Linked DNA regions of Homo sapiens. The protein of the gene in region 2 purifies or fractionates together with the protein of the main gene of each other region. This does not show direct contact. Each region holds a gene or a part of one and is shown on either strand. Other genes may lie near its edges.

Region 1 (6,993 bases), on a different chromosome or scaffold from region 2:
ATACTGTATGATTCCACTTATATGAGGTACACAAAGTAGTTAAACTCACGGAGACAGAAAGTAGAATGGTGGCTGCCAGGGGCTGGGGAGAAAAGACTATAGAGAGTTATTAATAGGTTCAGAGTTTCAGTTTTATAAAATGAAAATAATTCTGTGGATAAGGGTGGTAAAGATGGCACAACAATGTAAATGCACTCAATACCACAGAACTGTACACTTAAAAAGTTTCAAAGGTGGCCAAGCACAGTGGCTCATGCCTGTAATCCCAGCACTTTGGGAGGCCAAGGCGGGCAGATCACCTGAGGTCAGGAATTCAAGATCAGCCTGGCTAAAATGGTGAAACCCCATTTCTACTAAAAATACAAAAAATTAGCTGAACGTAGTGGCACGTGCCTGTAATCCCAGCTACTCAGGAGGCTGAGGCAGGAGAATCGCTTGAACCCGGGAGGCAGAGGTTGCAGTGAGCCAAGATCACGCCATTGCACTCCAGCTTGCGCAACAAGAGCAAAACTCCGTCTCAGAAAAAAAAAAAAAAGTTTAAAAGGTAAATTTTGTTACATGTATTTTACCACAACTTTTTTTTAATTTTCTAAAGTACAGGGTGGCTTTCTGCAATTTTTACTATTTCCAAAGAAAAGCAGAAATGATCAGCAATGCCCAGGACAACTCATAAAAACCATAAGCATGTCCAGTTCCACTGATCAAATGTCCAGGCTCTCTGCTGTAGTCATTCAACAATAGCAGTGTTTTAGTTTCCTCCTCCTTCCCAAAACCATCACTGGAGAAGGGAAAATATTGGCTGACAAGACAAAAAGAGGAAAAAATAAAGCAAGACTAACAAGAATGTTTCAGGAATACTTCTTTTTTTTTTTCAGACAGAGTTTCACTCTTTCACCCAGGCTGGACTGCAGTGGCACAATCTCAGCTCACTGCAACCTCCGCCTCCTGGGTTGAAGCAATTCTCGTGTCTCAGCCTCACGAGTAGCTGGGATTACAGGCGCCCACCACCAGGCCTGGCTAATTTTTGTATTTTTAGTAGAGACAGGGTTTCACCACGTTGGCCAGGCTGGTCTTGAACTCCTGGCCTCAAGTGATCCACCTACCTCAGCCTCCCAATGTGCTGGGATTACAGGTGTGAGCCACGGCACCTGGCCAGGAATACCTCTCTGTGGTTCAGTTTTCTTATCTGTAAAATAGAGGAAATAACACGCCCTCCTTTCCAAAGGGATGTTATAAGGATTAGGTAAGTATTTTAAAGTGCTTAGCACGTAGTAAGTGCCCTATAAAATGATAGTTGTCAGGCCAGGCTCGGTGGCTCATGCCTGTTATCCCAGCACTTTGGGAGGCCGCAGGAGGCGGATCATGAGGTCAGGAGTTCGAGACCAGTCTGGCCAACATGGTGAAACTCCATCTCTACTAAAAATACAAAAGTTAGCCAGGTGTGGTGGCAGGCGCCTGTAATCCCAGCTACTTGGGAGGCTGAAGCAGGAGAACTGCTTGAACCCAGGAGGCAGAGGTTGCAGTGAGCCGAGATCACACCGCTGAACTCCACCCTGGGTGACAGAGCGAGACTCCATCTCAAAAAAAAAAAAAATACAAAAATTAGTCAGGTGTGGTGTGGTGCATGCCTGTCATCCCAGCTACTCGGGAGGCTGGCACAGGAGAATTGCTTGAACCCGGGAGCAGAAGTTGCAGTGAGCCCGAGATGGCACCACTGCACTCCAGCTTCGGCGACAGAGCAAGACTCTGCCTCAAAAAAAAAAAAAAAAAAAACAAAACCCTAAAGGGTGGCAGGGGAAGGATTAAAAAAAAAAAAAAAAAAAAAACCACTAAATTCAGAACATTCTAATTGCCATTTCCCCAGCAGTCCTCATTTCTGAATCAATTTCTGGCCTGAAATCAAACAATCACTTCACCAGGTGAATCTTTCTGGCAGTTACAGGGGCTACTCTACAAATAAATATTTACTGAACAGCAGTCGAGGGTACCTCACTCTGCTAGGCTGGCAAGGAATACAAGAAGTAAAACTGTCGTCCTTGTAAGACATATATAAAAAGATCAAAAACACAAATGTAAAATAACAATTCAGAAGTTACCTAGACACAGGAATAGACCATGTCTACTATGAAAAACAGTGTCTTTGACCCAGTTTTTGAAGACTCGCTAAAACTATACACTCTCCCATCCCTCCATGATTAAAAACTAAGCTCTGTATCCTAACGTTTTTTCTGCTGCCACTTTCTTTTCTCCTTTAATTGCTAGAGAAAAGAGTATGCTAGAAGGGTCAGGACTAAATCTCAAGAGGTGCAGTAGTTTCACACACGGGTGCTAAAGAGTCTGGTAGTCTTTCCTTACTTCATTCATTTATTCAACAAGTAATCATTTAACACCTATGATGTGCCAGACACCATGCTAGGCAAAGTGAAAACGACGGAGACAGACATGACTCCAATTCTCACGCAGCTTTCAATCTAATAATCTATATTCCACTTAACTGTACAGTTAAGAACTGACTTATTACCTATGAAAGAAACCCTGAGAATCTCAGAATCTAAAGGGACTGCAGGAGATAAATGTCCTCGTTTTTCACATAGGGTCAATGAGGCCCAAAAGTGACTTGCTTAAAGTCACTATGCATCAGTGACAGTCAGGGACTAGAACCCAGGCCTCCTGAAACTCCAATCAGTGTCCTACATGCTCCTCTCCCTGAGGGGAAGCAGGTACATGGGGGAGGGAAGGAAAAGTAAACCCCATCAAATAAAGGCCAGATGTCAGTCTTCCCCTTCTCGAAAGATGGGGGAGCTAAGGTCAAAACGGGGTAGGAAGAGGTCGGAAGCTGCCTCAGTTTCCCCACGGAAAAGCGGCCACTCAGCCTAGCTATAACACAGGCTTCCCTCCTGCGATTCCTTCCAATTCCTCCCGCCCTGCCTTGTCGAACTCCAACCCGGGACCCAGAGAGCTACCGTAGAAAATTACTCCTTCACTCACAAGGACTCGCACCAGCAACGCCATGTTCCTCAATAACCATTTCCGGGTGAAGAGTGAGTTTCCGGTGTCCCCTTTTCTACGTCCTCCTTTTGCCGGCGAAAGACTGGCAAGGGGGGCGCAGGCGCAAAGAGGTCGCTACGCGCACGCGCTGTTGTTTTCTCGGCTGTGCACCAGGCTGTCGTGCCCGGGCACGCTCTCCCTGCTGTCTCCCCCACTACACGTAACAGTGGTTCAAATCCTTCCCCCACGCCTGTCTCCTTGACCCCAGACCTCGGGGCTTCTCATATCCCTCTCTTTATTCCCCACCTAACCCAGCCTCACTCCTCAGCCCCTCCTTCCCAAACTCCACCCCAACACTTTTCAATGGAGGTTGAAAAGAACAGGACTTTAGGAAATCCCAATCTTTAGAAAGAGCCAGAAGACCGGGCGCGGTGGCTCACGCCTGTAATCCCAGCACTTTGGGAGGCCGAGGCGGGCGGATCACCTGAGATCAGGAGTTCGAGACTAGCCTGGCCAACATGGCAAAACCCCGTCCCTAACTAAAAATACAAAGAAAGTAGCCGGGCATGTTGGTGTGTGCCTGTAATCCCAGCTACTCTGAAGGCAGAGGTTGCAGTGAGCCGAGATCGCGCCACTGCACTCCAGCCTGGGCGACAGAGCAGGACTGGACTCTGTCTCAAAAAAAAAAAAAAAAAAAAAAAAAAAAAAGCCAGAGAAGGAGGCTAAGATAAAAGAATACGGGGGATACCAGACTCCTGAAAGTCAAGGCAAGAAGGCGGTCATGTGCCGATCTGAAGCCTGGTAGAGGAAGAAACTTTTGGGATTTGTGGTTGGTTGGTTGTTTAAGGGAAACATCTTTGCATATTGATAGGAAAAGATTAGTGAAGAGTATACAGGGCCGTGCCCGGTGGCTCATGCCTGTAATCCCAACACTTTGGGAGGCCGAGGCAGGTGGATTGCCTGAGGTCAGGAGTTCAAGACCAGCCTGACCAATATGGTGAAACCCCGTCTCTACTGAAAATACGAAAAAAATTAGCCGGGCATGGTGGCGTGTGCCTGTAATCCCAGCTACTTGGGAGGCTGAGGCAGGGAATCGCTTGAACCCGGGAGGCAGAGGTTGCAGTGAGCTGAGACTGGGGCACTGAACTCCAGCCTGGGTGACAAAGCGAGACTCCGTCTCAAAAAAAAAAAAAAAAAAAGAGTATACAGGAGAATCAATCAAAGAGGCAAGGAGCTTCTTGAGGAAAGTGGCAGAGAACGGCCTTGGTAGAAGACTCCTCTTCCATTACATCCCAAGAGAAGAGAAGACAAAGTACTGGTGCTTTGGGGGTTGAGGGAGCAGAGGGGCAGGATGTTGAAGGACTTCTTTCATTTCATTCAGTCAACAAAGACCTATTGAGTCTTCCCTATGTGCTGAACACAAGACATACTGGCTTCATGGAGTTCTTAGACTGGTGGGGGAGGCATAGGAACCCAGTGAAAAAAATTAAAACTGGGGAGCTACTTTGGTTAGGTTGGTAAGGCCTCTCCAAGAAAGTGACATGTAAGATGAAATCTAAAGGAAGAAGAGGAGCTAGTCATGGGAAATAACTTCACTCGACTATTTTTTTAATTAAATTTATTGATTTTTATTAATTGACAAAAAATATATATTGTGTACAACAGGATGTTTTCTTTTTTCTTTTTTTTTTTTTTTTTGAGACAGAGTTTCACTCTTGTCGCCCAGGCTGGAGTGCAGTGGCTCAATCTCGGCTCACTGCAACCTCCACCTCCCAAGTCAAGCGATTCTCCTGCCTCAGACTCCCAAGTAGCTGGGATTACAGATGCGCACCACCACGCCTGGCTAATTTTTGTGTTTTCAGTAGAGACGGGGTTTTGCCATTTCGGCTAGGACGGTCTCAAACTCCTAACCTCAGGTGATCCACCCACATCGGCCTCCGAAAGTGCTGGGATTACAAGAGTGAGCCACCGTGCCCCCGGCCAGGATGTTTTAAAATATGTATACATTGTGAAATGGCTAAGTCAAGCTAATTAATATATGCATTACCTCATATTTTTGTGCTGGAAATGTTTAAAATATGTTCTTTAAGCAATTTTCAAGAATACAATACATATTCATAGTGGGTATAGTCACCATGTTATACAATAGATCTTTTCTTTTTTTTTTTGAGACGGAGTTTCACTCTTGTTGCCCAGGCTGGAGCGCAATGGCGTGATCTTGGCTCACTGCAACCTCTGCCTCCCGGGTTCAAGTGATTCTCCTGCCTCAGCCTCCTGAGTAGCTGGGATTACAGGCATGCGCCACCACGCCCAGCTAATATTATATTTTAGTAGAGACGGGGTTTCTCCATGTTGGTCAGGCTGGTCTCGAACTCCCGACCTCAGGTGATCCGCCTGCCTTGGCCTCCCAAAGTGGCCTCCTGAACTTATCTCTCTTAACTGAAATTTTGTATCCTTTGACAAACATCTCCTCAGCCTCTAGTAACCACCATTCTACTCTCTACTTCTGTGTGTTCAACTTATATTCCACATATGAGAGAAATCAAGCAGTGTTTGTCTTTCTGTGCCTCATTTATTTCTCTTAACATAACATCCTCCCAGTTCATCCATGTTGTCATAGATATGAGCATTTCCTTCTTTTTTTTTTCCTTGAGACAGAGTCTTGCTCTTGTTGCCCAGGCTGGAGTGCAGTGGCACAATCTTGGCTCACTGCAACCTCTCCCTCCCGGGTTCAAGCAATTCTCCTGCCTCAGCCTCCCAAGTAGCCTGGACTACAGGCATGTGCCACCACACCCAGCTAATTTTTATTTTTAGTAGAGATGGGGTTTCTCCATGTTGGTCAGGCTGGTCTTGAGCTCCCGACCTCAGGTGATCTGCCCACCTTGGCTTCCCAAAGTGTTGGGATTACAGGTGTGAGCCACCGCACCTGGCCAGCATTTCCTTCTTCTTTTAGGCTGAATAGCATTCCATTATATATATAAATCACTTTTTTTTTTTTTTGAGACAGAGTCTTGCTCTGCCGCCCAGGGTGGAGTGCAGTGACACAATCCCAGCTCACTGCAGCCTGTACCTCCTGGGTTCAAGCAATTCTTGTGCCTCAGTCTCCCAAGTAGCTGGGACTACAGGCACGTGCCACCATGTCCGGCTAATTTTTGTATTTTTAGTAGAGACAGGGTTTCACCATGCTGGCCAGGCTGGTCTCGAACTCCTGGCCTCAAGTCATCTGCCCACCTCTGCCTCCCAAAGTACTGGGATTACAGGCATGAGTCACTGTACCTGGTCATAAACCACATTTTCTTTCTTTCTTTCTTTCTTTTTTCTTTTTTTTTTTTTTTTTTTTTGAGACGGAGTCTCACTCTGCCACCAGGCTAGAGTGCAGTGATGCAATCTCAGCTCACTGCAACCTCCCCCTCCCAGGTTCAAGCGATTCTCCTGCCTCAGCCTCCTGAGTAGCAGGGATTACAGGCGTGCACCACTACACCCAGCTAATTTTTGTATTTTTAGTAGAGACGGGTTTCACCATGTTGGTCAGGATGGTCTCGGTCTCCTGACCTCATGATCTGCCCACCTCGGCCTCCCAAAGTGCTGGAATTACAGGCGTGAACAACCACGCCCAGCCACCACATTTTCTTTATTTGTTCATCACTAATGGACACTTAGGTTAATTCCATACTTGGCTGTTGTGAATACCACTGCAATGAACATGTTAGTATAGATGCCTCTTCAACATACTGATTTCATCTCCTTTGAATATATATCCAATAGTGAGACTGCTGTATCCTATGGTGGTTCTGTTTTTAATTGTTTGAGGAACCTCCATACTGTTTTCTATAATGGGTGTACTAATTTACATTCCACCAACAGTGTGCAAGGGTTCCCTTTCTCCACGTCCTTAGGAACAATGTTATAGTAGCCATTCGAACAGGTGCAAGGTAATATCTCATTGTGGCTTTAGATTGCATTTCCCTGATGATTAATGATGCTGAGCATTTTTTCATATACTTG
Region 2 (7,951 bases):
ATCAACTCCCCAAGGTGCTGGCACCACCCAGCTGCATTCCAGGCAGTGCCTATTAATGTGCTAGGAATGGCGCTGGGTGATTGACAAGCGGGTCAGTCCAGACTGGCTGAAACCATCTTCAGGCACAGGGAAAGGAAAAGGGCCTAGAAAATGATCAATAAGAGCCACTGCGATGTGTTGGCTTACTTTGTGCTGGCACTGGCCAAGGCTACACCAGGTGTATAAACACACCACGCACATGGTTTACGATGATAATGCTGCAAGGGGGCCTGAAGAGGTGCCTGAGGGAGTGGCCAAGAGCACGGCTCTGAGCCACCCAGCCTGGGCTCAAGTCCTGGCTCTGCCACTTACCAGCTGGTGACCTTATCCTCTCTGTGCCTCAGTTTCCTCAGTTTCTGTAAAAATGGCAGGATAACAGTAGTACATAAATCTGAGAGCCATTGTGAGGACTAAATGAGTCCATACATGTAAGGCATTTAGAATTGTGCCTGGGCTGGGCACAGTGGCTCATGCCTATAATCCCAACACTTTGGGAGGCCAAGCCCAGAGGATTACTTGAGTCCAGGATTCGAGATCAGCCTGGGCAACATAGCGAGACCCCATCTCCACAAAAAATAAAACAATTAACTGGGCATCGTGGTGGCCACCTGCAGTCCCAGCTACTCAGGAGGCTGAGGCTGAAGCAGGAAGATCGCTTGAGCCCAGGAATTCGAGGCTGCAGTGAGCTATGATTGTGCTCCTACACTCCAGCCTGGGTGACAGAGTGAGACCCTGTCTCTAAAAAAGAAAAAATAAAAATAAAAAATTAAAATAAAAAAAATTGTGCTGGCACATAGTAAATACTCGGTGTTAATTTATCATCATAGTTCTCATTTTAAGATGAAGAAACTGAAGCTTACAGCAATTAAATAACCCGCCTGGGGTTGGCTGCTCTGAAGACCTTTGCCTTTGCTGCCCTGTTCCTGGAAGCCTCTCATGCCCATCTTCCCGTGGCTGCCCCCTCAGGTGACTCACAAGCTGCTCAGGGATGGCCTCCAGACCACTGACCCCTCCCCTGCCCCAATCACTGTGGACCCAGCACTCTGCCTTGATCTCTCCTTCGCACTTATCACATCTGAAATTATCTTGTTCATTCAGCAAATGAGCTAATACATATAGAGCACTATTATTATTATATGTTTGCTTGGTTGCTGTCTGTCCTCATAGGGGCAGGGCCCTCACCTGTCTTGTCTACCACATGACAGGAACTCAGAGCCAGCTTCATGGGTGTGTGGCCTGCACAGTCGCCCAGGGCCCTGCACTCAGAAGGGGCTACATTTGCTTTAATGCTCTGCTGTTATTGTCTTGAAATTCTTAACAATTTTTTTAGAGACAAGGTCTCACTCTGTCACCCAGGCTAGAGTGCAGTGGTGTAATCACAGCTCACTACAGCCTCTGACTCCTAGGTTCAAAGCAGTCAAGCCATCCTCCCACACAGCTAAGACTATAGGTGTGCACCACCACATTCAGCTAATTTTTTAAATTTTTGGGGAGATGCGGGTCTCGCTATGTGGCCCAGGCTGGTCTCGAACTCCTGGGCTCAAGTGATCCTCCCGCCTCCAAGTAGCTGTGATTATAGGCACAAGCCACCACGCCCGGCCTTAACAATTTTTTAACAAAGGGCTTTACATTTTCATTTTGCACTGGGCCCCAGAAAATTATACTGATAGAGTGATCAGGGCTATAGATCAGTGAGTAAGTGAATGAATGAATGAATGAATGAATGAATGAATGAGCAAGCCTACATTCCAAACAGGTCTCTCAGACTCCATAACCCTACTACTTAACTACCATGCCAAACAACCTCCATATGGAGGAAGAGAGGTGGGCAGGGCAGTCAGAACCAGGGACAACCACAGCCTGACGGAGAAGCTAGGGTACAGGGGAAGGGAGCACCTTAGGAGGAAGCATCTGTTTGCGCTTCCTCTGGAGCCCAGCATTCTTCTCAACCTCTCATTGTCCTTGTACCTCAAGCAGCATGAAAACCATTTGCTGCCACCTAATGTTACTTTTTGGTTGCCTAAGACAGAGGGACCTTGGCTCTGCCTCCTGGGACAGATGTGGACCAGTCAGGTGCTCTTCAAAGCCACGGCTATGACAGCGCCTCGGGGCACCCAGCACAGCCCTAGGTGCCTGGACCTTGGTAAGTAAATAGATACAATCCTTGCCCTTTGTGCCTTAGGGGTGTCATCAAAACTACATGGCTATGAGGTGAGGATGGAGCAAGGAGGGACTGCTGGGCTGGGAACCTGGTGGGGTTAATCAGGGGAGCTTTCTGGAGAAGGTGCCCTTGGGCGCCTCATTTTCCACTCCCCCTGAACTCTCCTTACCTCAGCGGGCATCACACATTCTGGTCCCCAGAGGTTTTCCTTTAATGGTCTTGACTCCTAACATCTTCGGAACAGTTAAAGCCATTCCAGTTAAAATCACCCATTGATCTTTCCTCAAATTAAACTCCTCCCTCTCTTTCCCATTGCCACCCCAGGCCTGCCTCTGGCTGTTCTTGGAGCCATCCTTGATCTTCTCCCACTCTCCCCTGAACAGCAGACATCTGTTTCTCCAAACTCTCTAGCATTGTCTAACACTTCAGTTAAAGCTCTCGTCATCTGTAACTTTGTGTCCTGGTTATGTACACATTCCCAGACTTGGCCATCAACTTCTTGAAGGCAGGACTCTCCTAGATTCACCTTTAAAATGTAGGTAAGGCAAGAAGGAAAAGGTTTGGAGGAAGCAAAGTTTTGTACACATTGGATGGTCTTGGCTAAATACAGGATAGTGGAGATATACGGGGGGCTGAGGCTTTCTTATGAAAAATGCAGATGGTGGGACAGTCTTTTGAGAACAAAAATTAGTCCACATGGTGATGTAGCTAGAGACATATAAGAGAAGACTTGATAAAACAAACACATTTTAATGGGAGAAAATATTCTGAAATCACATAGCTGTGAAGGGAGTAATATCTGGAATATACAGAGAACTCCTAAAACTCAATAACAACAACAACAAAAAAAAAACCCGATTAAAAACAGGTAAAGGACTTGAATAGATATTTCTCTGAAGATATACAAATGGCTGATAAGCACATAAAAAGATACTCAATATCACTAATCATTAGACAAATGCAAGTCAAAGCTACATTGAGATACAGCCCTCACCCATTATGATGGTTACTATCAAAAAACCAGAAAATAACAAATGTTGGTAAGGATGTGGAGAAATTGGAACCCTTGTGCACCGGTGGTGGGAGTGCAAAATGGTGCAGCTGCTGTGGAAGACAGTATGGCAGTTCCTCAAAAAACTTAAAATAGAATTACCATATGATCCAGCAATTCCGCTTCTGGGTATATACCAAAAGAATTGAAAGCAAGGTCTTGAGATGTCTGTACATCCATGTTCATAGCAGCATTATTCACAAGAGCTAAAACATGGAGGCAACCTAAGTGTCTATCAATGGATGTGTAAACAAAATGTGGTATATACATGCAACGGAATATTACTCAGCCTTAAAAAGGAAGGAAATTCTGACATATGCTACAAAATGAATGAACCTTGAAGTGAAAATATTATGCTAAGCAAAATAAGCCAGTTGCAAAAATACTGCAGGATTCCACTTACATGAGGTACCTAGAGTAGTCAAAATCATACAGACAAAATAGAATGGTCGTTGCCAGGGGCTGGGGGGAGAGGGGGAAATGGGGATTTATTGTTTAATGAGTATGGAGTTTCAGTTTTACAAGAGTTACGGAGATGGTGCGATGGCTGCACAACATTATTCAGTGCTATTTCATACCCATGAACTGTACACTTAAAAATGGCTGGCTGGGCACCGTGGCTCACGCCTGTAATCCCAGCATTTTGGGAGGCCGAGGCAGGTGGATCGCCTGAGGTCAGGAGTTCGAGATCAGCCTGGCCAACATGGTAAAACCCTGTCCCTACTAAAAATACAAAACATAGCCAGGCATGATGGCGGGCGCCTGTAGTCCCAGCTACTTGGGAGGCTGAGGCAGGAGAATCACTTGAACCCGGGAGGCGGAGGTTGCGCCATTCACTGAACACCAGCCTGGGCGACAGAGCCACAGAGCAAGACTCCATCTCAAAATAAATAAATAAATAAATAAAAGGTTAAGGCCAGGTGTGGTGGCTCACACCTGTAATCCCAGCACTTTGGGAGGCCAAGGTGGGAGGATCACTTGAGCCCAGGAGTTTGAGACCAGCATGGGCCACATAGCAAGACCTTGTCTAAAAAAAATGGTTAAGATAGTAAATTTTGTTATGTGTATTTTACCACAATACAAAATAATAAATTGTAAAGAAAAAAAAAGTTTTTCTAGTCTGAATCAACACAGTTGGCATTGCTCATGCTAGAAAACCTGCGCCTCCCAGAGAAAAATGTCTGGCTTATGAGGGGTAGGAAGGGGGGAACAGAAGGGATACTAACAGGGACTGGGCAGAGAAGAACAAGAACTAGGAAGCACTAAAGAAGGAATTGAGGCCGAGTACCAAGGGATAGTGACAGGTACGGGGGCACCCACGAACAACGTTCAAACATATTTTCATCCAGTAACCTGTATTTACATGCAAATATATTGGTTTATGCAAAACAGCGGAGGCCTCGGGGGAGGGTTTTTTAGTCTCAAGCTTGTGCAGTCATTGAAAAAGAGACGCAAAGCTGTCTCTGGGGTACTCCACGTCCGCCTTGCCCCTGGGAGCTGGGCCGGTTCCAGGAGGACGAAGACTGAATTAGCTCGGCTTGCAGAGAAAGGCGAGCAGCGCCCCTACACGGAGAGTAGCGGTGCGCCTACAAAGTCGCGCATGCCCACTCCGGCCTCCCGCTCCACTCCTAAGGCAGGCGGCGAGGCTTAGTGCGCAAGCGCCATTCGTCGGCGCCGACTCCTCCCGCTAAGGCGGGAACACGCGGGGCCCAAGATGGCGGCCAGCCGGTACCGGCGTTTTCTTAAGCTCTGTGAGGAATGGCCAGTGGACGAGACCAAACGGGGCCGGGACTTGGGCGCTTACCTGCGACAGCGGGTAGCACAGGCCTTTCGGGAGGGAGAGAATACCCAGGTGACCGGCGGGGAGGCGGCTGGGACGAGGGGAGGAAAGGACGAGGCAGGGGCGGGGCCAACGAGCGCGCTAGCAGGGGGATCTGCGCATGCGCGCGCCCTCTTTCCAGGCAGCACGTGAGCGCGGACCCCCTTTTTCCCCCAGGGAGCTACTGATAGCGACGCCCGTTGTATTCAGCGCTCTCCCCCGGCTGCACCTTGGAATTGCCGAAGAAGCTTTTTTTAAACTCCAGATGGGCCGGGTGCGGCGGTTCACACCTATAATTCCAGCACTCTTTGAGAGGCCGAGGCGGGAGGATCGCTTGAGCCCAGGATGACCTCCTGGGCAACATAGTGGGACTCCGTCTCTACAAATCAAAAAACAAACAAAAACTTCAAATGCAGAATCTCTAGGGGTGGGGTCTTGACCTCAGAGTTTTAAAAGCTCTCCAGGTGATTCAAGGTGCAGAGAGAGTTGAGACCCACACCACCAGTGGCAGCTGGTGACAGCCTCAGCTTTTTGCTTCCTTGTCACGGTAGCATTACCTCATTATTTCGCAGTGTTGTGTATTGACTGAGCTAATCCCCAGTTAACTCTGCAGGTCCCCGCTAAGCGTTTGCGTTCTTCCTGAGCCCCTGTAAGCCTGTGCAGCAGGTTTGGGTCCTCAGCTCACGCAGCTGTGTGTGAGTAGTAGGCCTATGTTCTTGCTTTCCTCCAGGTTGGCGCTGCAGCTCTGGGATTCATTCATTCATATAGCTCGTATTTATTGAGCACCTACCATATGCCTGGAACGGTGCTAGGGAAACAGCAGTGTTAAACAGGTGAAGTCCTGCCCGCATGAAGTTTTACATTGTAGTTCAGGACACAATAAGCAGGTAAGTGTACGTAAGACAGATAAGTACTGTGATCGATAGAAAATAGGGTAGCGTGATAAAAGGGTAATGTTATTAGTGGGGCCTTTCTGAGGAGATGACACATAGGTGAGACCTAAGGCAAGAGGATGAGCCAGCCATGTACACTTGGCGGGAAGGACATTCCAGACACTGCACATGTCCAGAGGCAGGAGGCAGATTGACATGTTTGAGGACAGAAAGAAAGCCAGAATGGCTGCAGGGTAGTAAGTAAGGTGGAGTTTGCTAAGGTGAAGGTCCGGAGCCAGGCACAGTAGGATATTATCTGTTCTGATTAGCTTTAGACCTCATTATAAGGCCAGTGAGAAGTCACTGGGGATGTTTAGTGAGGGGACTGATGTGCCCTAATTTACTTTTTAAAAGACTATTCTGGTTGTATGTGGTGAGTGGGCTATAGGGGGCAATAACAAAAAAAGAGGCTGGAGAGAAGCCGATTATGGTACTATAAGCGACAGATGGTGGGGGGTTGGATGAGGACGGCAGCACAGAAGATGGAAGTGGTTGGATTCAGGTTATGCGCAGGTTGAGTCAGCAGGACTTGCTGATATATGGGATGTGGGATAAAGGAAAAGAGAGGAACCAAAGATAGCACCTAGATATTTTTTGGCCTGGGCATCTAGGTCTAAGATGGTGCCATTTACTGAGGTAGGAATAGGTGAAGTGTAGGAAGAATATCTCGAGTTCGGTGTTAAGCAGGTTAAACCTGAGATGCCAAGTACACTGATTTCCAAGTGGCAATGTCAAGTAGGCAGTGCTATATTTGAGCCTGGGGCTCGGGCAAGAGACCAGAAATGAAATGAGATAATGAGATGCATATACACACAGTCTGAAGAAATGACTTGTGAAACTTGGCCAAGACTTGTTACAGAAGGAACATGGGTTTTTTTTTTTTCAGCTTAGCCCGAAACAGAGCCAAGCCAGCCCACCTAAAGGAGCAGGAGCACGCCCAGTGGCATCATTGTGACTGTACTGCTGATTGGCTGGCAGCCTGGGGAGTGTCTGGCCCAGGTTATACGATACCCAGGGCCCTCACATTATTCATGGTGGTCTTCACTGGCCCAAAGTGTAAAGATCTTTAAGGCAAGAATCTTATCTAGTCCCAATTCTACAAACCCGTGAACTTTCTAAAGCTGTACTCCCTGCATATTTTTAGTATGAGCTTCCTGAAAATAGAGATGATGCCATTTTTATCTTTCCCTCTCTCCCCTACGAGTGTCTAGCTAGTTCTTGGCCCATAAAAAAACACTCAGTAAATGTCTGAATGGATAAGTAAATAATTGGTTGTGGCTCATGAGACAAAGATAATTTGAATATAGTTTCAGATGTAGCAGAACTAGATGAAGAGAAGTTGTGAAGAGTGAGAAAGGAATATTTGTGTGTCCTGAGTGGTGAGAATTGATTTGAGAGCTTACCATGTTTGGGAAATTGCAGGATCTATGGAGGAAGGCCATAACCTGGCCTTCACCACTGAGGAGCTTACAGTTGAGCAGTCAGCGGCTCCATCCTTGGGGAGGTGAGAGAGCGTAACATTCACTTGCTTGATTGTTAGTGTAAGAGGAGCCAGCAAAGGAGGAAAGAGTTTTCTCTTTCGGAGTTGTCATCACCTAGGGCAATCGTTTCTGATCAGTCAAAGGCCCACACAGGTTTGAGTCCCAGCTGCAGATGCAACTCATGGCTGTGTTAGTGATTCTGTAGCAGCTGATGAATGCATTCCTGGTAGAGTGAACCAGTGCACAATGGCAGCAGGTGCATTACTCAGGACCACTGTTGCGGTACCTCATCCTAATGTCACCTGAGAATGCACCTGGCCTTAGTAAATCTTTGTGGTAATTTTTGAAGGGCGCAATTCCTTGCTGGAATTGAAAACACTATTGTGAGTCACTCCTACTGACACCCCCAGATCATTTATAAAGACCTTGAGAAAGCAAGATGATTCTGGTAGGCTCTTCATTAAACTG
Region 3 (7,403 bases), on a different chromosome or scaffold from region 2:
AATCTGTTAAAAGTTTAGGAGTTAACATATAACTTAGCAAAACTGGGGAAAGGATACCCTTTTATTCACACTGTAGCCTTTATTCTTTGACAGGCCATATTCACAAGTTACAATTGTTGGAATTTCACATCTTCTACTCGTACTCCATATAGTTGGTTATGACACAGAGGGTTAAGTCAAAGTCCACTGTGATAACGTAACAGCCCTTTGAAAAACACAGAAATGCAACTGGCAGTAAAGAGGTTCAGATATGTGTGTGTGTGTGTGTGTGTGTGTGTGTGTGTGTGTTTTGAGAGGGAGTTTCGTTCTTGTCATCCAGGCTGGAGTGCAATAGCACGATCTCAGCTCACTGCAACTCCGCCTCCCAGTTTCAAGCAATTCTCCTGCCTCAGCCTCCCGAGTAGCTGGGATTACAGGGGCCTGCCACCACACCCACCTAATTTTGTATTTTTAGTGGAGATGGAGTTTCACCATGTTGGCCAGGCTGGTCTCGAATTCCTGGCCTCAGGTTATATGCCCGCCTCGGCCTCCCAAAGTGCTAGGATTACAGGCATGAGTCACTGCGCCCAGCCCAGACCTGTGTTTTTAAGGTTAAACTTGAAGAGCTGATGACTTTATTTTGATCAGAGGTTAAAGAGAATTCCTCGTGTAACCCTGACACGTTGCACTTGCTGCTCGGTAGATTGAAGTGTTACAGCTGTTGTTCCTAACAACCTCCCACAGCGGGAGAATGCAGCGTGGACTAAGGCACCTGATGGAAGAGAGCCATGAAAACAATTCTGTGCGAGTGCTTCAGTGCAGTTCAACAAATATTAAAATCGAGCTTCCAGTATGTGCCAAGTATTATGCTAGATGCTGGAAACACAAGAAAAAAGAACCTGCCCCCTCTATGCCCTTAAAGATTAATGCTTCTTAAATACAGGAAAGAGAAATATTTAGTTGTGATGATACAAATTAAATTATAGGGAAGTACTGCAGTGGTACAGTGGTTGCCTCACAAATCCTGGAGAAACTATCAAACTAGGCCATCAATCCTTACGGGGAAATCTGAAAACAGGTTTGTTAATATGTATAATAAATTTGTCTCTTGGACATAAAGAAGATGGTGCCAAACACTGCACTGCAACCACTAAGTAGCTTGGACTCTGTAAGTGTAATAAAGGTGAATTACTTTGGTTAAAGTGATTGCATGTTAATTTAAGAAATTATCTTCCTCCAAAAGAGGTGCTCATTTTATTTTCCTTTTCTGAGTTATTCAGGTCTACATTCTTTTCTTCTGCCATGTTCAGTGGTTAGCATGAACAAGCAACATGATCATTTAATATTCAACTAAATGAGATGTTAATTTTCATTGCAAGATTAGAGCTGAGAGCATTTACACAGAATTGCAGAAACTGAAGATGCCTGGAAAAATTCCTGAGGATTGTTCAGTACTCAGTATAGCGGTTAAGAACGTTTGCTCTGGAGTCTTAAGGAGAACCCTAGCACTCCCCAACATTACTACCTCTATTGTGTTACTGGGAGAATTAAATGAGCAACTGTGTTATGGGCCTATCAGTGTTAGGCACATAAAAAGTGTTCCCCAACTGCTAGCTCCTGCTATTAGTATAAGAAAAACAGGGGCCCCACTGGCCCCAAAGAGTGGGCTACTCTACGATTGTTCTCTGGAGACACCATCGGCAGGCCTGTTTCTAAGTGAAAGCTGGCGTGCAAACTGAAGAAAAGTGGCAGAGATAGATGCGCTCTTTCTTCTGTCGTTTCAATTGGCATCTGGTGAACTATGCCTAACAGCTTAACGCCCAACTGAAAAAAACTGTAAACTAGGATGGTAAGGAAGAGATGGGGTTTGAGCAGTGACTACAACTCTTCTTCTGAGTGTGTGGGTTCAAAAAACACTCCCTCCCACACTTAGCTTTAGGCAAGCCACTTTACCGTTTTAATCTCCGCTTTCCTCATATGGAAAATGGGATAACAAAAGTGTGTAATTGGATTGTTTGTACCTCAATGGATAAATGCTGGGATGGACGCCCCGTTCTCCATCACGTGCTTATTTCACACTGCGTGCCTGTATCCAAACATCTCATGTACCCCACAAATATATACACCTACCATGTACCCTCAAACATTAATTTTTAAAAAGTTACTGTCTCCTGGAGTTACGGTGCGGAGCGCACAGCTCCCGCTACGCCGCAAAACAACTACCACCTGCAGCAGCCGGCCCTCCACGCTGGCCATGAAAGGCGCTGGGCTAGACAGCCTGCGACGGGGCGGCTTCTCGGGCTATGCCACTTACTGCGGGACACACTGGCTCACCCGGGTCTGCCTCGGAGGAATGCAGTGAGGATTAAACTAGCTAATCCACGGAAAGCGCTTAAAACGGTGCCTGGCTCGTCCCTGGCCCCCACGCGCCTCGGGGCTGATATTCAACTGCGCATTAGCAAGGCCGTGGGCCCCGTGCCGAGGCTTCCTGCGGGCGGGATCCGCGGGCACGGCCGGCCCAGCCGCCAGGTGAGCCTGAGCCCTTCCCGGCACCTGCATCCTCCGCCGCCACAAAAAGCAACTTTTTAACAGTTTCGCAGCGGGGGCCTCCCGGGCCAGGCCGCCGCCCGCCCGCGGGGCGCCCCCGCCCTCACCTTGCTGGAGGTCCTGGTGGTCGTACCACGGCTCGTCCTCCTTCATCTCAAACTCCTCTACCAGGTTTTCCGCCAGCATCTCGGCTGGGTCTTCTAGGGGCAGCGGCCCCCGCCGCCGTCCCGCCTCAGCCGCTGCCCCGGGCTCTTCCCCGGCCCCTCCGCCCTCAGCCAGAGCCGCCCTCGGGCGGGACGCGCCGCCGCCCAGACTCCGCTGCGCCGCCTCAGCCCCGTTCCCGCCGGCGGCCGCCGACCGGCCGGCTGCCTCGACTCGCCTCGCGCCTACCGACGGCCCCAACGGCCGGGCATTACGGTGCGAACGCCTGGAGCCGGAGTCTCACGCAGCCGCCAGTCTTCACGCCGCCGCCGGGCCCAACGTGGCACTTTGGCAGAACCCTCCCCGGCCGGGGATGCGATTCAAACCCCCGGCGGCGCCTCAACCAATCGCGAGCGGGCTGCTGGCCGAGCGGCAGGGACTTCGTCCAATCGCCTCTCTCCAAAGACCGGCGGCTCGCCCGGTATCGAGGGCAAGCAGCCAATGGTGGGTCCGGAATAAACAAAGAAGGCGGGGAAAGAGTGAAGGGGTGCGGCCGAAAGCCCGTCCCCTGATCTGCGCTGTGAGGCTCCTAGGAGGGCGTTCTGGGTTTCGGGCTGGGGAGCTGGCAGAGGCGCGTCTTACCCCTGTGGTGGGTGTCCCGAGGCCGGCGCGTCTGTGGACAGGCAACGCAGGCCGGAGGGCCTAGGACTCCGGCCTCTGAGAGGCGGGCGGTTGTCCAGGGGAGTCCTTCGTGCCGGCGGGAAGCGCAAGGGTGCCGGAAGCCTGAGGTCCGCCGCCCGGCCACCCCTTCTCGCATCTTGACTCTGAGATTTGCTCCGGGTCCGGCGGGGAGACTCGAGGTCGATCGGGAGTTTGGGTTGAGAAAACGCCCACTGAGCGGTAGCTCTTGTCTCCTTGACATCTGAGCCCTGGGAATTAAACTCACGCTACATAAAACGGTGGGCACCAGACCCCCTTGAGAATCTGGGGCGGTGAGGGATGCCCGAAGCTGTCCACTTGGAGGGCGAAAATTGTAAGCAGTGTTGCAACGATTTTTAAAAGGTACCCCTAGACCACAAGTTAAGCATCTGGGGACGTGACATTGCACCTGGAGGGGACAGGCTGCAGCTCCAGCACTTAGTAGCCAGCGAGGCAGAGCACGCTGTCCTCCACCGACATAACCCAGCAAATACTGCTCCTAGGTAAAGCTTTAAGCACCATCTTGCAGACAAAGCACGGAAACTCTTAAGCAGGATGACAGACCTGAAGGTCAATGTTCTCAACCTTGACGTAAAGGTAAAGGTGCAGCTGATGGAAGACAACAGGGCCAATATCTAACTAACTTTGAGCAACGAAACAAAAAAAAATCGAGGTTTAAGTATACAATTGAAAGATTATCTCTAGAACATGAGGTAATAAACTGTTAGAAATTCAGAGAGAGGGAAGAGGTGGAGAGGAGTGTTAAATCCTGATCTATTTTAGAAGTGAGTCGACAGATAATACCTTACATTGATAATCCAATGAATAGTTTCCACAAATATGGAGAGAGCTGCCAGAACTAAAAATGGGAAGCAATTAAGAGTTTTCCGAGGCTGGACACGGTGGCTCACGCCTGTAATCCCAGCATTTTGGGAGGCCGAGGCGGGCGGATCACCTGAGGTCGAGAGTTCGAGGCCAGCCTGACCAACATGGAGAAACCCCATCTCTACTAAAAATACAAAATTAGCTGGGCGTGGTGGCGCATGCCTGTAATCCCAACTACTTGGAAGGCTGAGGCAGGAGAATTGCTTGAAACCCGGGAGGTGGAAGTTGCAGTGAGCCGAGATTGCGCCATTGCACTCCAGCCTGGGCAAAAACTGCGTCTCAAAAACCAAACAAAAAAAAAAAGTTTTCCTAAGAGGAGGAGTGATTTGAGGCTGGGGACTTTGGCTTTTTGTTATAAACCCTTCTGTGATCTTGCTTTTTTAGTTACTTGCACATTAAAAATAAGGGAAATTGTAGGGAAGGAATTATAGACTCAAGCTACTTTTTTTGTCTTTCTGTATAAAAAAAGACTTGGGTAATTTGGAAGGGGGGAAAAACTCATCCTGAATAATTCTTGTGGGTAATAAAATTCAGGGTGTCTCTCTGCCTCCCATCTTTGCTCAAACCAGCATAACCTAACCTCACGCTGATGCTGTATCAAACAGCACTTGACTCCAGGGTTACCTTACACATAGGCTGTAGGCTACTCTGGAGAAGTCTTGCCAAGGACAAGACCTCCCACTGTGGAGTTGTTACCTGAAGTTTTACCCTTCAGTCCTTAAAGGAGACTGCTGAATAGAGTGGAAAGCACAAGGGACCTAGAGTGAGAAAACCTAGAGTTCTCGCCATACTCAGTACCAGCAGAGAAGCCTTTTAGCAAACAGTTTACAGGAAAGATGATTGTTTGCCTTGCTCACAGAGCTATCTGAATCAGAGAGACCCTGAAAGCAAGTATTTTGTGCTCATTTTAAATGTAAGGCTGTGTTCTTGTGACCTATACTGTAGAAGTGCAGGTACCCTTGAGGACCAATTATGAGCATCACAATAAATAATCATAGTAATGGATTATAACCCATTGAATAAAAAGGAAAGAATCCATGAGTCCATACTGACATAAATAAATGGGAGAGAAAAGAAAACTTTCTTACAGTAGGATGCCAAGCAAAAAATGTAGAAGGAATAACACTGTTAGAAAGTAATAATAATAATAAAAGAGGAATGGTAAACTCACAAATCCCTTTCTTCAAAAAGGCAAAATGTTACTGGCACACCTGTAGTCCCAGCTACTTGGGGGGCTGAGGTGAGAGAATTGCTTGAGTCCAGGAGTTTGAGGTTACGATGAGCTATGATAGGTGACAGCAGAGCAAGACCCTGTCTCAAAAAAAAAAAAAAAAAAAAAAAAAAAAAAGGCTGTGTACAGTGGCTCATGCCGTAATCCCAGCTCTTTGGGAGGCTGAGGCAGGCAGATCACCTGAGGTTGGGAGTTCAAGACCAGCCTGGCCAATAAGGTGGCCCATCTCTACTAAAAATACAAAAATTAGCCGGGAGTGGTGGTGCAAGCCTGTAATCCCAGCTACATGGGAGGCCAAGACACAAGAATCCTTTGAACCTTGGAGGCAGAGGTTGCAGTGATCCGAGACCGTGACACTGTACTCCAGCCTGGGCAATAGAGTGAGACTCTGTCTCAAAAAAAAAAAAAAAAAAAGAAAGAAAGAAAAGAAAGTGAGGTCCTGTAAAGCCTCTTCTACTGCCCTAGTTGTCCATCGAGATATTCAGAGTTGAAATAAGATCACTTCAAACAAACTATCTTAATCACTAAAGATAGAACCCTTTGGAAAGATAGCAAGTTGGATTTAGGAATAATTGGCAATGGTGATTTGTGGAAGCTAAAGGGCTAGAATCATGCAGGGGCATTTTTTTTTTTTTTTTTTTTGAGAGAGTCTCACGCTTGTCACCCAGGCTGGAGTGCGATGGCGTGATCTTGGCTCACTGCAACCTCCGCCTCCTGGGTTCAAGTGATTCTCCTGCCTCAGCCTCCCAAGTAGCTGGGATTAAAGGCGCCCACCACCACGCCTGGCTAATTTTTGAATTTTTAATAGAGATGGGGTTTCAGCATGTTGGCCAGGCTGGACTTGAACTCCTGACCTCAGGCAATCCACCAGCCTCAGCCTCCCAAAGTGCTAGGATTACAGGTGTGAGCCACCGTGCACGGCCCCCTTCACGATTCTTATCACTGATTCGCAAGGTTCAAAGTGCCCGCTGTTTGCTCCATCGAAAACAGAAGCTCATTTTGACTTCAAATGCATATTGAAATGTTCTTTAACAATTCTCCATTTTTTTTTTCTTTTTCAGAGTCTCACCATGTGGCCCAGGCTGGAGTGCAGTGACACCATCTCTGCTCACTGTCACCTCCACCTCCCTGGTTCAAGTGATTCTCGTGCCTCAGCCTCCTGAGTAGCTGGAATTACAGGCATGTGCCACCATATTCGGCTAGTTTTTGTGTTTCAAGTAGAGTCAGGGTTTAGCCATGTTGGCCAGGCTGATCTCAAACTCCTGGCCTCAAGTGATCCGCCTGCCTCAGCCTCCCAAAGTGCTAGGATTACAGGTGTGAGCCACCGCGCCCAGTCAACAATTCTCCTTTAAAAAAGAAAAGAAAAGAAAAGAAAGATATGGAGAATTAAAGTTTTTGAGGGTCAGGCGTGGTGGCTCACGCCTGTAATCTCAGCACTTTGGGAGGCCTAGGTGGGCAGATCACGAGGTCAGGAGTTTGAGACCAGCCTGGCCAACATGGTGAAACCACGTCTCTACTAAAAATACAAAAATTAGCTGGGCATGGTGGCGCATGCCTGGAATCCCAGCTACTTGGGAGGCCAAGGCAGGAGAATCACTTGAACCCGGGAGGCAGAGGTTGCAGTGAGCCGAGATCATGCCACCGCACTCCAGCCTGGGCAACAGAGTGAGACTTCCTCTCAAAAAAAATAAATAAGTGAATAAATAAAGTTATTGATAGTTTAAAAAAGCAAAAAAACCCACAAACTTTATGTCTTTTGGTGTGTTATTGGGTTGTTTTTAAGGACACTATTTAAGGAAACTTCTTTTCCCCTGGAAAATCTTGAACAAAAATTGCATTGAAAAACTGGTGTCAGTTTTCTGTGCTAAATTTGGTGAAGTTTCCATTGTTCTTTTAGAGTCTACTCAGTCATGGTTTAGAA

Evidence for each region. The genes of interacting proteins can lie anywhere in the genome.
Region 1: the proteins of UQCC2 (region 2) and UQCC1 purify together in Homo sapiens (co-immunoprecipitation; 4 studies listed by BioGRID and IntAct, with this or other methods). This does not show direct contact.
Region 3: the proteins of UQCC2 (region 2) and CDR2 purify together in Homo sapiens (affinity purification with mass spectrometry; 2 studies listed by BioGRID and IntAct, with this or other methods). This does not show direct contact.

The regions. Positions count from the first base shown.
Region 1 is NC_000020.11:35,408,952-35,415,944, forward strand, and holds the start of UQCC1 (ubiquinol-cytochrome c reductase complex assembly factor 1), read right to left. Parts: upstream 3,023-6,993; 5' UTR 3,013-3,022; coding exon 2,989-3,012; exon of another isoform or gene 2,964-2,988; intron 1,342-2,963; exon of another isoform or gene 1,104-1,341; intron 1-1,103. UniProt on the Homo sapiens protein: Required for the assembly of the ubiquinol-cytochrome c reductase complex (mitochondrial respiratory chain complex III or cytochrome b-c1 complex). Involved in cytochrome b translation and/or stability.
Region 2 is NC_000006.12:33,708,701-33,716,651, reverse strand, and holds the start of UQCC2 (ubiquinol-cytochrome c reductase complex assembly factor 2), read left to right. Parts: upstream 1-4,951; 5' UTR 4,952-4,965; coding exon 4,966-5,103; intron 5,104-5,202; exon of another isoform or gene 5,203-5,344; intron 5,345-5,404; exon of another isoform or gene 5,405-5,617; intron 5,618-5,800; exon of another isoform or gene 5,801-5,957; intron 5,958-6,888; exon of another isoform or gene 6,889-7,073; intron 7,074-7,951.
Region 3 is NC_000016.10:22,371,598-22,379,000, forward strand, and holds the start of CDR2 (cerebellar degeneration-related protein 2), read right to left. Parts: upstream 3,023-7,403; 5' UTR 2,713-3,022; coding exon 2,634-2,712; intron 1-2,633.